Homo sapiens: one gene and its partners. The protein of the gene in region 1 purifies or fractionates together with the protein of each later gene. This does not show direct contact. Each region holds a gene or a part of one and is shown on either strand. Other genes may lie near its edges.

Region 1 (3,500 bases):
ACATCATTTCTATACTGGAAAAAGTGAGATCAAGATGGATAACCAGCTTCCCCACCAGCTTGAGTTTCCTGGCAGGAAACTTGCCCCTGCCTTAACACTTGGGAAGCATCGGGGTGCCTGAACGAGGACAGGCAGAGACAAAGTGGGGAGGCAGGACTACCATCCCCAATACCAGAAACTGTGCTCTGTTACTTGGCCAAAGGAGATGTCAACTTAGAGTGGCTGTCGAGCAGCATCATGGTATAGGAGGTTTGTTGCACAGGTCCCCTGGGCTGGAACACCTCGTCAGTCTTCCCACACTACTGGGATATCCCCTTTGGAAGCACCCTCATTTGGTATGAGTGGCACTCTAATTGTTTACTAGAACCAAGGCAAACCTGGGTTAAGGCACCATGTAGTCATAACAAGGAGGCCGAAACCTAGCTGCCGCCCCCCACCCCCAAAAAAATCGACAGGTAAATTACAAGGAATATTTAAACAAACATATTCAATGTAAACCAAAACAAGCCATATAAAATCCTTCAACACAAAGACATAGATGCATATCCATAAGAAACAACAGCAAACAGGGAACTGCGATACCCCTAAATGGACAAAGTCGGAATCAGAGACAGATCTTAATGAAATGGCAATATGTGAGCACTTGTACCAAGAATTCAAAATAGTAGTTTTAAGAAAACTCACTGGTCTCTAAAATAACACAAAAAACAATTCAGAAATATATCAGAGGAATTTAACAAAGGGATTGAAATAATTTTTAAAAATCAAAAAGTGATATTGGAACTGAAAAATACATTTGCTGAACCGAAAATTTTATTAGCGGCTCTCAAAAGAGAATGGATCAAGAAGAAGAAATAATCGGTGAGCATGAGGATGGGCTTTTGAAAATACACAAGGAAAGGAGAAAAAAAGAATAAAAAGGAAGGAAGAATGCCAACATCTTGTAGAAAATTACTGCAAAAGACCATATCTAAGAATTATTGGTGTTTAAGAGAGAGTCAAACCAGAGCAAGAGGTAGAAAGCTTATTCAAAGAAATAATAACAGAAAGTATTACAAAGCTTGAGAAAGAGATAAAGATTCAGGCAGATAAAGGTCAGAGAACACCAAACAGATTCCGACCCCAACAAGACTACCCCTAGGCATAGAATAATCAAACTCTCAAAGGTCAAGGAAAAAGAGAGGATCCTAAAATCAGCAAGAGAAGAGAAGCAAATAATATTTAAAGGAGCTCCAATTTATCTGATGATAGACGTCTCAGTGGAAACCATACAGACCAAGAGAAAAGTGATGACATTTTTTAAGTGCTGAAAAAAAAAAAAAACCCTGCCATCTAAGAATACCATATCCTGCAAAGCTGACCTTCAAATATGAAGAAGAGACAATGTTTCCCAGACAAACAAAAACTGAGAGAATTCACCACCACCAGACATATCTTATAAGAAATGCTAAAGGGAGTTCTTCAACCAAAAAGAAAAAAACACACGAACAGAAAACAGCTGAATATCTAAAATACACTGATAAAATTAAGTGTATGCACAAACCCAGAATACTCTAATACTGTAATTGTGGTGCACAATCTTCTCATATCCCTAGTAATGAAGACTGGAAGATAAATCTATCAAGAACAATGATAACTGCAGAAACCAGTTAAGAGGTAAGCAATAAAAATATGTGAATTGGGAAAACTAAATTAAAAATGTGTGAGGGTGGAGTAAAAGTGTTTTTTTCCTTTGTTGCTATTCTTTGTGATATAAGTTGTTATCTCTTTAAAATAACTTGTTATATCTATAAGATTTTTTATAAGCCTCATAGTAATCACAATGCAAAACCTATAGTAGAGTCATTAAAAATAAAAAGCAACTAATTAATATATACCACCAGAGAAAATTATATAACCCCAAAGAATGACAGTAAGAAAAGAAAAAAGAGAGAAATTTAAAAACAACCATAAAACAAGCAACAAAACAGCCCCAGAAAATCCTTACTTAACAATAACATGGAATTTAAATGAACTCAACTCTCCAATTAAAAGACATAAAGTGCAGGCCGGGTGCAGTGGCTCACGCCTGTAATCCCAGAATTTTGGGAGGCCAAGGCAGGCAGATCATTTGAGGTCAGGAGCTCAAGACTAGCCTGTCCAACATAACGAAACCACATTTCTACTAAAAATACAAAACTTAGCTTGGTGTGGTGGTGTATGCCTGTGATCCTGGCTACTCAGGAGGCTGAGGCAGGAGAGTCGCTTGAATCCAGGAGTTGGAGGCTGCAGTGATCTGAGATCATGCCACTCCACTCCAGCCTGGGCAATAAAGCAAGACTCTCTCAAAAAAAAAAAAAAAAAAAAAGCATAAAGTTAAAGTGGCTGACTTGGTAAAGAGAAAACCCTAACTGTATGCAGCCTACAGGAAATCTGCTTCACCTATAAAGACACACAGAGAATGAAAGTGAAGGGGATGAACAAAGATATTCCATGCAAATAGAAACCAAAAAAGCCGGAGCAGCTATACTTATATCAGATAAAATAGATTACAAAACTTTAAAAGACTACTTTAAAAAGAGACAAAGGTTACTATATAATGCTAAAGAGGTCAATTCAGCAAGAGGATATGACAGTTCTAAAAATCTATGGACCCAACACCAGATCTCCCAAGTATATAAAGCAAACATTCATTGATCTAAAGGGAGAGATAGACTGCAATGCAATAATATTGGGGGACTTTAACTCCTCACCCTGAGTAATGGACAGATAATCTAAACAGGAAATCAACAAGGAATATTGGAGTTATACTGCACACTTTACCAAATATATCCAACTGACACGTACAGAAGCACTGCTGCAGAATACTCATTATTTTTATCAGTACATGGAGCATTCTCCAGAACAGACCACATTGTAGGCCAAAAAACAAGTCTCAATAAATTAAAAAAAGTAGAAATCTAATCAAGTATCTTTTCTGACCACAATGGGATGAAACTAGAAGTCAATAACTTGAGAAACCTCAGAAACTGCACAAACATGAAAATTAAATAATGTGCTCCTTAACGACCAAAGAGTCAATGTTGAAATTAAGAAAATTTTAAAAATTTCTTGAAACAAATGAAAATGGAAGCACAATAAACTAAAATCTGTGGAATGCAGAAAAGCAGTACAAAGAAGGAAGTTTATAGTAATAAATGCCTTTAAAAAAAGGTAAAAAGACTTCAGATAAATAACCTAATGATGAACTTAAAGGATTTGTAAGAGCAAGAACAAACCAAACCCCAAATTAGTAGAAAAAAGAAGTGTTAAAAAATCAAGCTCTTTCTGATGAGGTTTCTTATCTTTCATATATAACCTTATTAATATCATGAATTATTTATTAATTTTCTTTAAACCTCAGGTATCGAAAAGACAGGAAGTTTTTTCTCTGTTTTCAATGCCATGAATCAAGTAAATATGTCAGTATGTCATTCCGTTTTTCTCCCCATGAATTGGCATAATGTAAAAATATAGATGTT
Region 2 (3,500 bases), on another chromosome or scaffold:
GGTGACACTGATTTCAACCTTGTGAAACTTGGAGCAGAGAAACAGCTGAGTCACACTGTGCCCTGACTTCTAAGTTAACAAAACTCTGAGATCAGGGTACAAACAAATGGGCGTTGTTTTAAGCCACTAAATTTGTGGTAATTCGTTACAGGAGCACTGGAAAACTAATACTCTTTATTTAATCACTGACTTCAAATATGCTCTGTCAAATCTCATTTTTCTATTAAGAGATGTAACTTTGAACAGAGTTCATACATTTCCAGTCATACTCAATTACTATAAAATCCAGTCTAATTTACTTTCCCCAAACTAATTTTGAAAATGTTTAAACCTACAGAAAATTTAAAAGACTAATACAATGAATACTCTTATACCCTATACCTACCTATATTTATCAACTGCTAACATTGTTCTAATTTATTTGCCTTTTCACTCTTCCTAAATATACATAAATACTCCCCCGCCCCCCACCCTCTCCTTCTCTGTATCAGGCATTCTAAACTGTAGATGATTTTGCCCCCCAGAGGACAACTTATCATCAGGAAAATGAAATTAAAACTACAATGAAATACCAACTCACACCCATGAGAATGGCCACTCTTTAAAAAAAAAAAAAACACACACAAATGTCTGGAGACATATCTGATAGTCACTACTGGGGGAATGCTACTGATATCTAACGGGTAGAGCCCATGGATGCTGCTAAACATCCTGCAACACCAAGTCCCACACAATTATCCAGCCCAAAATATCAATAATGCTGAGATTAAGAAACCCTGCTTTCTGTATATGTATATACAAACATTTTTTTCCTGAACCATTTGTAAGTAAATTACAGACATTATGATACTTTTTACCCTAAAGGCTTTAGTTTTGGCTGGGCATAGTGGCTCACGCCTGTAATGCCAGGACTTTGGGAGGCCAAGGTGGGCCGACTGCTTGAGCCCAGGAGTTCGAGACCAGCCTGGGCAACATGGTGAAACCTGGTCTCTACAAAAAATACAAAAACTAGCCAGGTGTGGTGGCACAGGCCTGTGGGCCCAGCTATTTGGGAGGCTGAGGTGGGAGATCGCTTGAGCCAGGAAGGCTAGGTTGCAGTGAACCATTGAGCCATGATGACGCCACTGCACTCCAGCCTGGGTAACAAAGCAAGACTTTGCCTGAAAAAAACACTACAGTTTATATTTTCTGAAAACCAGAACACTATCCCATACAGCACAATTTAACATTGATACAATACTACTATCCAATATGTAATCCATTTTCAAATTTCCCCGTAATCTAAAAAAAATCCTTTATGGCTTTTTTTTAAAAAAAAATACAGGATCCAATGAAAGGTACATAGGATGGCAGCCTGATCAACATTCTAGATTTAAAATAAATAAGGAGTCCCAATTTTCAAGCAGTGGGGGACAGGGAGTAAAACTTGTGGCACTAGCTCTAAGATCTAATAATAGTCTATGACTCTGATACTATGCTACATCTGAAATGGATGTACTAATTCAGAAGCTTGTTAATACATTAAAATCTCTCTTGGAAGAATATCTTCAAACATGTTTACCCTGTTCTTAAGAAAGGGGAACTCTGCTCACAATAACACATAACCCTGTTGAATAAATATCAATCTGAAACAACAAATCAAGAAGGAACTTTCTCCAAAGAAGATATACAAATGGCCAAAAAGCATATGAAAAGATGTTCAACACCACTAATCATCAGGAAAGTGAATAAAAACTAAAACAAGGTATCAGCTCACGCCCGTGAGAATGGTCACTCTTAAAAAAAAAAAAAGAAAAGAAGTGCAGACGGGGATGTGGAAAAATTGAAACCCTTGTGTATTGTTGGTGGGAATGTAAAAGGGTAAAGCCACTTTGGAAAACAGTATGAAGGTTGCTAAAAAAATTAAAAATAGAATTACCATGTGATCCAACAATCCCACTTCTGGATATACAAAAAAATTGAAAGCAAGATCTCAAAGAGATATTTGCACTCCCATGTTCATTGTAGTACAATTCACAATAGCCAAGAGGTAGAGGCAACCTAAATGTTCATCGACTAATGAATGGATAAAGGAAATGTGGAATATACATACAATGGAATACTATTCACCTTTAAAAAAGAAGGAAATCCTGTCATAATCTACATGGGTGACATTATGTTAAGTGAAATAAGGCAGTCACAAAAAGACAAATGCTGTGTGATTCCACTTATATGAAGTATAAAGCAGTCTAATGGAAACAGAAAGCAGAATGTGGTCACCAAGGGCCAGGGGCAGGAGGAAATGAGGAGTCGTTCAATGGGTAGAGTTTCGACTTTGCAGGATGAAGAAGTTCTAGAGATCTGCTGCACAGATCTTTGTTGCTGCACAAAGTGCATAAAATAGTTAATACTACTATACTATATGCTTAAAAATGGTTAAGATAGCAAATTTTATGTGCTTTTGACCATAATTTAAAAAAACAAAAAATGAAACAGAAAAAAATAACCACCATTCCATGATCACACCTAAGAAAGATAACTATTTAATTTCATTAAATACCCAATCAACAACAAAAAAGGAATTGCTTATTTTCAAAGATAAATTCATTTACTAATATTTTGGGTTATTAAAACATGCACATTGCAATATCCTGGTTTTCTAAACTCGCATACTTCGTAGATTAAAAAGTTTTAAAGGAAAATTATTTGCAAATGATTTGAACATCTAGAAATGAATATGGCCAGACATAGTAGCTCATACATATAATCCTAGCATTTTGGAAGTCCAAGGTGGGAAGGTGCACTTGAACCCAGGAGTTTGAGACCAGCCTGGGCAACAAAGCAAGACCCTGTCTCACAAAAAAAAAAATAAATAAATAAATAAAAGAAATGGATATGTTAAAAATATTAACACTTTATCTTTTCTTTCTTTTTTTTTTTTTTTTTTTTGTTTTGAGACAGAGTCTCACTCTGTCACCCAGACTGGAGTGCAGTGGCGTGATCTTGGCTCACTGCAACCTCCAACTCCCGGGTTCAAGCTCTCCCACCTCAGCCTCCCAAGTAGCTGGGACTACAGGCACATGCCACCATACCCGGCTATTTTTTGTACTTTTAGTAGAGACAGGGTTTCGCCACATTGGCCAGACTGGTCTCAAACTCCTGACCTCAAGTGATCCACCTGCCTCAGCCTCTCAAAGTGCTGGGATTACAGACGTGAGCCTCCGTGCCCAGCCGACAACACCTTACCTCTTCAATCAGACAATGTAAAATGATGGTATTTAACAGGATGATATAGTGTTGCTTTTAGAAACAACTTTTAAAAATAAAAACAATAAAATGTACCTAACTGCTACAAAAAAAGAAAACTTTCATGGAGAATAAAAAATAATACTATAATCCATCAAGATGAAAAACTGGGGCACTCCACAAAAAAACCTGCACACAGATGTTTATGTAGCAGCCTTATTCATAATTGCCAAATACTGGAAGCAACTAAGATGCCCTTCAGTAAGTGAATGGAT
Region 3 (3,500 bases), on another chromosome or scaffold:
ATAAACTCAATCCTCCCAATAACCCTATAAATAGTACTAGTACTCCCATTCTGTAGATGAGAAACAGAGGCAAATAATATTAGTTACTTGCCCAAAGTCACAAAACCCGTAGGTGGTACAATCAGAATTTAAACCAGTACATCTCCCATACTTTTTTTTTTTTTTTTTTGAGACGGAGTTTCGCTCTGTCGCCCAGGCTGGAGTGCAGTGGCGCGATCTCGACTCACTGCAAGCTCCGCCTCCCGGGTTCACGCCATTCTCCTCCATACTTTTAATCACCATGTCATACTGTCTCATACATACAACATGGATGAACTGATAGGTGAGCAAGGAAATGGTAGATTAGTTTAAAAAGAATATAGTGATATAACTGATGAGTTTGCTATATTCATTTCAGTTTGCTTCAGTTAAAAAGGTGATTCAATTGGGTTCAATAATCCTCCCACTTTTCCCAAAAAAACATGCTTGTGGTTCTGAACCAGTCTTAAGACTTGCTTTTGAAATGAATACTCACTAGTTTCTCCAGGTCTTCAAAGCCCTGTATCCTTGGTGTAATCAAAGACTAAGCCAAACTTCCAAGATTTCAAAAAGAATTGAAATACAAAGGAAAAAGCTAACTAGTAACATATTTCAATAATTCTTATCCTTGTACAAACAAGATTAGGTAAAACTCAAATCTATTACATCTCTTATTGGCAGATCTGCAAAGTTTCTGATAAAAGGTGAAAATAAAACTACTTTATCAACTGATTTTTTGGAATGTATATCACTTTTTACGCTGTCCCTGTTCAACATCATCAGGAAATACTGACACAAAACCACTACACATTTTAAAAATTATTTTTACAATGTCATTCAGGTAATGGAGTTTCTATAAAAATCTGGACTCAAATGAAGTTGATTATAAAATATAAAATTGTATCAACTTACTGTGTTAAATCTTTCCAGAAAACTGTCATCTCCAAGCAAGACATAGGCTTTCAACAGATATTCATAATATGAATCAATCCCTGCTCCAACTCCACTATCTATGGAAACACAAATGTGATTTTTCATTAAATTTTTTTAAAACCGTTAAATTTTTTTAAAAAAATAGCACTCCTTAGATTAGCATTAAATTAACATTGTGCATATATATGACTACACCAGTTTAGATTTGCCCTGGAACAGATAATTATATTTAAAATAAATAATTTGCTAACTAGTTCATAGTTTAATTAGCTCTTAGTTTCACTAGGTGGAAAATAAGCATCTTGTGTTCTTTAAGAAATTGGTATGTATAAATGAATAGTAAATTCACTTAAATCTTGAGGAAATCTAAAGATGAAGTCTCTTGTTTTGCTTTTTCCTAAAAAGGAAAAAAGAACCAAAGTCAAGAAAAATTAAAGAACAATAATAATATCTACTCTTAAAAAGAAGAAATGTTATCTAACACAAAAATGAAACCTATAGATTCAAAAAAACACCTATTTTACTGTCTTAACCAGTAAAAAAAAAATGATAGGCAGGTGGAGTCTAGACCACTTAGAACTGAACCAACTCTAGACAAAAATGAAGATGGTACAATGCTATGACTGCAAGGAAATGATTTTAAAAATTTCACAGTTTTCATGTTTGTAGCAATATGTTGATGCACAAAATATCAAAAATACAAGTCTGGATTTTTCCTCTTAGGTTTATAATACACTATCAAACTTCTATTTAATGCATTTGTATTTGCATTATAAATGCATTAAGCCTTCTCTGTTTATGTGTATGCTATACAAGCACATACATGCTGGTACGTTACCATGAAAATAATAGTTCTCATCTCAAACTAGTGACTCGTCTTTTTACCCATATTTATATACATTTCATTTCTATTGTAAGACACAACATTTTTCTAGTGGTACATTTAAATCAACATATTATGTTATTTTAAATCTTCATTTTTAAATGAGTCTTTTTAGTGTTATGACATAATGGATTTAATTTAACAGCTGAAGTATGATATGGTAACCACACTGTACTATTTAATTCACAGATGTAGGAAAATATTTGATTTTTAAACTATAACCAAGATGAGACCAGACAGTTATAAGCAGTGAAATACTAGAAAACAGTGAATGAATACACAAGATGACTTTTCATCAGTGGCCATTCAATATTTTGCTTTTAGGAACTTGGAAGAAATTGTCTTGAGTTTCAAATGTTCTGGTAAATCTAGTCATTTCTTAGCTTCCTCAGTATCACCCTGAATTACTGAAATAACTGACTGTGAAGAGTCAAAAGTTCTTTTCTGTCATTTAGATGACACAGAAAAATTTTATACAATACTGAATAAAGGTAATAATTTTAATATGTTTGAATTAATAATTTTATAATTTTTATTTATTTAAATATAGGCAGTTACCATTTATTTTACATATAAACAAGATAAGCTTTTTAGAAATAGAGAAAATGTATAAAAAAGATGCTTTCATTAAGAATATTCTAATTTATTTCCATTCATCTATGCTTATCAGGGTGTTTTATAAAGATAAAATCACAGTTCTTTGTACAATTCAATATCCTGTTTGTTCATATAACATTGTTACATGTTCCTTCCCATGCTCCTGATTTATTTTAATAACAATATTCCAACGCTGATGTAAAATAATTTTCTTAGCTTTTTTTACTGATGGTTAGACTGTTTCCCAATTTTCTGCTATTTATAAATAATTGCATGGGAACATCTTGGGAACAAATAATTTTCTATGTTTTGTATTATTCCTCAGACTAGATTCCCAGAAGTAAAATTATTAATCAAAAGGACTAACATCTCGTTACTGGGCACTTACTTCATAGTAAGTGTAGTACATGCCCGGCACTGTTCTAAGCACTTTACTTTGGTTAACTCATTTAATCCTCATACAGAACAACTAATTACTATTAATATGCCCACTTTACAGATATGGAATAGAGAGGCACACAGAGGTTAAATAAGTTTCCCAAGATCACATAGCTTGAATCCAACAACATGACCCCAGAGTCTATGCTCTTAGCTACTATATTTCTGGAGGTAGGAGAAAAAAAGAATTTATTAAACCCATATTCTTACTAAACCACACCTTGACGTGAGATGGCTGCAGAAATCTGGTTCTCTAGTTTTCAAATAAATTATAGCGTTTCATCTACACCCTATACCTATAATGCTATATCCATTAAGAAATAGAATACTAAATCATGTAGAAGAAGTGTGTCACATTTGGCATCAAAAAAGAAAATCTGGCTAAATTAATTAAAATTCCAGCAATCTTGTGAGAACCTATGCTTTATAGTATCCCAAAGATTATTTTAACAAATGAAAATTCTTTATTTCCCAACCATTTTGAGGATGCAAAGGCTTGATTTAAAAAGCCTAACTTACATACCTTTTCGTACCCAATCTCCAGTATGAATATTTATAGTCACGCCCACTAAATTACTACTTCGCTGTCTTTTTTCCCAGAGAAAATCAAGAGCTTTTCTGGCATATTCCT
Region 4 (3,500 bases), on another chromosome or scaffold:
TTCTTTGTAGGTGCTCTAATGAGGTATTCTGCTACTAGCCAATCTCCTTTGCCCCTATTGCAGACTGGGATCCTGTTTTCCACGCTATCTTTGGAAGGGTGACTGAGAATGAATTTGCTTCCTATGGGTCTCAGCTCAAAGGTCACCTTCTAAGGGATACTACCCTAATGGCCCCATTAAGAATTACAGCACCCCACCTTCAGCACTTCCTCTCTGCCGTCCCTGCTTTATTTTTCTCTGCAGCCCCTATGATCATCTGAACTGACTTCTTTAATGTCGTTTCATGATGGCAGGAAGTGTGTGAATATGCATTCCTGTTTTGTTCACTGCTGTATCAAGGACAGTGCCTGGCATGTGGTGGCACTCAATAAATGTTTATTGGAATGAATAAACTTTAATATAATTGAGTGTCCACAGTGTTTTTACCTGCAGAGGTGTCATTCCCAGCTCATGTCCACTTCTTCCCTGAGCAATTTTGGATAAATCATTTACAAGGCGCTCAAAAATGTTAGCAGCATTTAAATCACAGTCGTAGTTGACATAAATATCCACAACACACTGGGCATCTTGGAAAATAACATACAAGTATCAGAAATTCTGATCAAATAGCAGTTAGGTTTTCTTATCAAACAAGATGTTTGCCAACAAATTTCCCCAGTGAACTACAGACTCCGGTGGCCACATCTCACTCAGGAAACACATGTTGGAAGTACTAGGAAGCTGGAAGACAGGAGGTTGTTTTTAGGCCTGCTTCTGAGCAAATTGAAATCTCAGGCAGTTCATTCCACCCATCCAAGCCTCAATTTTCTCATCAAGGAAGGGGTTAACAATTGCCTGACCCACCTCTTAAAGTTGTGTCACTCTTACAAAATTACATTTGATGCCAGACAAGCAGGATGCTTACTTTGAGGCCACACAATTGTATAGTGTAAGGTAAATCCACATTTACCGTAGCACCCAATCAAAAATTGGCAGCACCAGTATCTTAGGTCCTGTGATTAACAGTACTCAGCTTGTAGGTAACGTAACCAAGTGTCCCAGTTTGACGAGATTAGGGGGTTTCTGGGACATGAGACTTTTAGTGCTAAAACCAGGAAGTCCTTGGCAAACCAGCCTAAGTTGGTCATCCTCTAAAAAAGGAGAGGTGGGGCAGGACTAGGTTAGAATTAGCCTTTTATTGCCAATCCTTTAAAACTCTAAAAGGAGGGGTTAGAAGTCTTAATCTGAGCTGTGGCAAATTAAAGCATCAGAAGTCCAGTGGATGAGTGTCCCCAGGTGGAAATACCTGCACAGATCCTCGTCAGAGTCTGAATGACCATCCACCTGTGCTCAAAAGAACTTGTTGATGTTTCTAAAATGTTCAGGAAAATCTCTTTGAAAAAGACCTATATGACATAAAGACAAAGGAGGACACTAATTAACAGTTTCAACCAGGGCTCAAAACCTCCAAAGTCTTCAGCAGCCAACCCAGTCGTGCAGTAAGTAAAGCACCCTGGGCAGAAGAAGAGTGGAGTGCCCACCTGGCTGGGCAGCAACGGGACCCTGGCCTTGGTGGGGACGGCTGGCAGGGTGGGGCCCACTGGGGAGCTGCCAAGTGGAAATGCAGGACCCATACTGTGACTTTTTGGAGAGAAACCAGAAATCTGGATTTTCATGTAAAATAGGATTTCTCAATTTGGCGACTAATCTAAATGATTTCAAACAATTTACAGACCAAACAGATATGTTTAGGGGGCTGAGCCCAGCAGACAGACCATATTGGTTAAAATGAAAGGCACATAAGATCCGGGGGCAGTAACTTTTTTTTTTTGAGATGGAGTCTCGCCCTGTTGCCCAGGCTGGAGTGCAGTGGTGCAATCTTGGCTCACTGCAAGCTCCGCCTCCCGGGTTCATGCCATTCTCCTGCCTCAGCCTCCCGAGTAGCTGGGACTACAGGCGCCTGCCACCACGCCTGGCTAATTTTTTGTATTTTTAGTAGAGACGGGGTTTCACCATGTTAGCCAGGATGGTCTCGATCTCCTGACCTCATGATCCGCCCGCCTCAGCTTCCCAAAGTGCTGGGATTACAGGCGTGAGCCATGGCGCCCAGGCTGGGGGCAGTAACTTTTTATAAAAAGATATTCTCTTACTCATTCAAAAAGTTCTGATTTACTGGGGTGCCAGCCGATGAATATGCCATTTACCCTCCCTGCCCCTGCCCACTTCTGAGTTCCAGGATGGTAAGATATGAAACATTTTCATGAACCATTTTCCTAATGCTTAGTGTAATATTAGCAGCATTCTCAATATTGAGTATTATAATTAATGACTAATAATAATAGTAAATAATGAAATGAAAAAACTTTGGAATCCGTACCTCTATCTGCATTTTCAAGTGCATTTTAAAGTTTGAAAGAAGAGTAAGAAAAATGGCAAGAGAGAGCTCAAAGACATCAGGCACTGAAGAGACGCCGTTTTTGGACAAGGCCACACAGAGATATTGCTTGATTGCATTGATGAACATCTCGTGAGTCCTGAATACGGGGCCAGCATTTTGCAACACAGAGAGGAGCAGCTGCAGGGAAACCACCTTGGAACGCAGCTCATGGGATCTGGCAAAGAAAATGAAAAACCACAACAGTGCTAAAAGAAAAAATGTCAAACAGTATGTTTCTTGAGAAGGCCTTGCTCCTTTACCAATGAGTAGAATTTTAAAGAATTAATAGCACCTAAATGTCAGGAGAATGAGGGCAGATGGCATGAGTTGGGTCCTTCTGGAATCGCAGGCCCTTTGAGAACAAGAGCTGCCAACTCCTATTTGTCTCTTTCCATCACAAAGTAGAGAATACAGCAGGAGCAAAGTGTCAACTGATTCTGGAGAGCGAGTTCTGCAACTGTACTGCAAGAATCAATGACTTTACATCACTTGTGGGAGGCTGAGACACCTGGCTCACTCTGTTTCACACACCATGAAGATGGCGCTCTTTATCCACCTACCTCACAGCCCTCCCTCCCCACTGCCCATGCCGGAGTTCAGGTATGGTAAGAAATGGTACATTTTCATGAACTATTTTCTTAACACTTATTTTTATTTTATTTTATTTATTTATTTATTTTTTTGAGACGGAGTTTTGCTCTTTTTGTCCAGGCTGGAGTGCAATGGCACAAATCTCGGCTCACTGCAACCTCCGTCTCCTGGGTTCAAGCGATTCTCCTGCCTCAGCCTCCAGAGTAGCTGGGATTACAGGCGCCTGCCACCATGCCCGGCTAATTTTTTGTATTTTTAGTAGAGATGGGGTTTCACCATGTTGGCCAGGATGGTCTCGATCTCTTGACCTCATGATCCGCCCGCCTCGGCCTCCCAAAGTGCTGGGATTACAGGCGTGAGCTACCGCGCCCGGCCTATTTTTATTTTTTAAAATTTATTGTTGCTCTGTTGCCCAGGCTAGAGTTCAGTGACACGATCTCAGCTCACTGCAACCTCTGCCTCCTGGGTTCAAGCGATTCTCTTGCCTCAGCTT

The links. Proteins that work in one complex are often made in the same cells at the same time.
Region 2: the proteins of CLEC2B (region 1) and DIPK1A purify together in Homo sapiens (affinity purification with mass spectrometry; one large-scale study listed by BioGRID and IntAct). This does not show direct contact.
Region 3: the proteins of CLEC2B (region 1) and EDEM3 purify together in Homo sapiens (affinity purification with mass spectrometry; one large-scale study listed by BioGRID and IntAct). This does not show direct contact.
Region 4: the proteins of CLEC2B (region 1) and ARFGEF2 purify together in Homo sapiens (affinity purification with mass spectrometry; one large-scale study listed by BioGRID and IntAct). This does not show direct contact.

What each region holds. Positions count from the first base shown.
Region 1 is NC_000012.12:9,862,855-9,866,354, forward strand, and holds part of CLEC2B (C-type lectin domain family 2 member B), read right to left. Parts: intron 1-3,500. UniProt on the Homo sapiens protein: Membrane-bound protein expressed on myeloid cells which acts as a ligand to stimulate the activating receptor NKp80/KLRF1, expressed on the surface of natural killer (NK) cells.
Region 2 is NC_000001.11:92,951,463-92,954,962, forward strand, and holds part of DIPK1A (divergent protein kinase domain 1A), read right to left. Parts: intron 1-3,500.
Region 3 is NC_000001.11:184,720,359-184,723,858, forward strand, and holds part of EDEM3 (ER degradation-enhancing alpha-mannosidase-like protein 3 isoform 2 precursor), read right to left. Parts: intron 3,499-3,500; coding exon 3,393-3,498; intron 1,029-3,392; coding exon 931-1,028; intron 1-930. UniProt on the Homo sapiens protein: Involved in endoplasmic reticulum-associated degradation (ERAD). Accelerates the glycoprotein ERAD by proteasomes, by catalyzing mannose trimming from Man8GlcNAc2 to Man7GlcNAc2 in the N-glycans.
Region 4 is NC_000020.11:48,970,211-48,973,710, reverse strand, and holds part of ARFGEF2 (brefeldin A-inhibited guanine nucleotide-exchange protein 2), read right to left. Parts: intron 2,592-3,500; coding exon 2,357-2,591; intron 1,386-2,356; coding exon 1,286-1,385; intron 567-1,285; coding exon 427-566; intron 1-426. UniProt on the Homo sapiens protein: Promotes guanine-nucleotide exchange on ARF1 and ARF3 and to a lower extent on ARF5 and ARF6. Promotes the activation of ARF1/ARF5/ARF6 through replacement of GDP with GTP. Involved in the regulation of Golgi vesicular transport.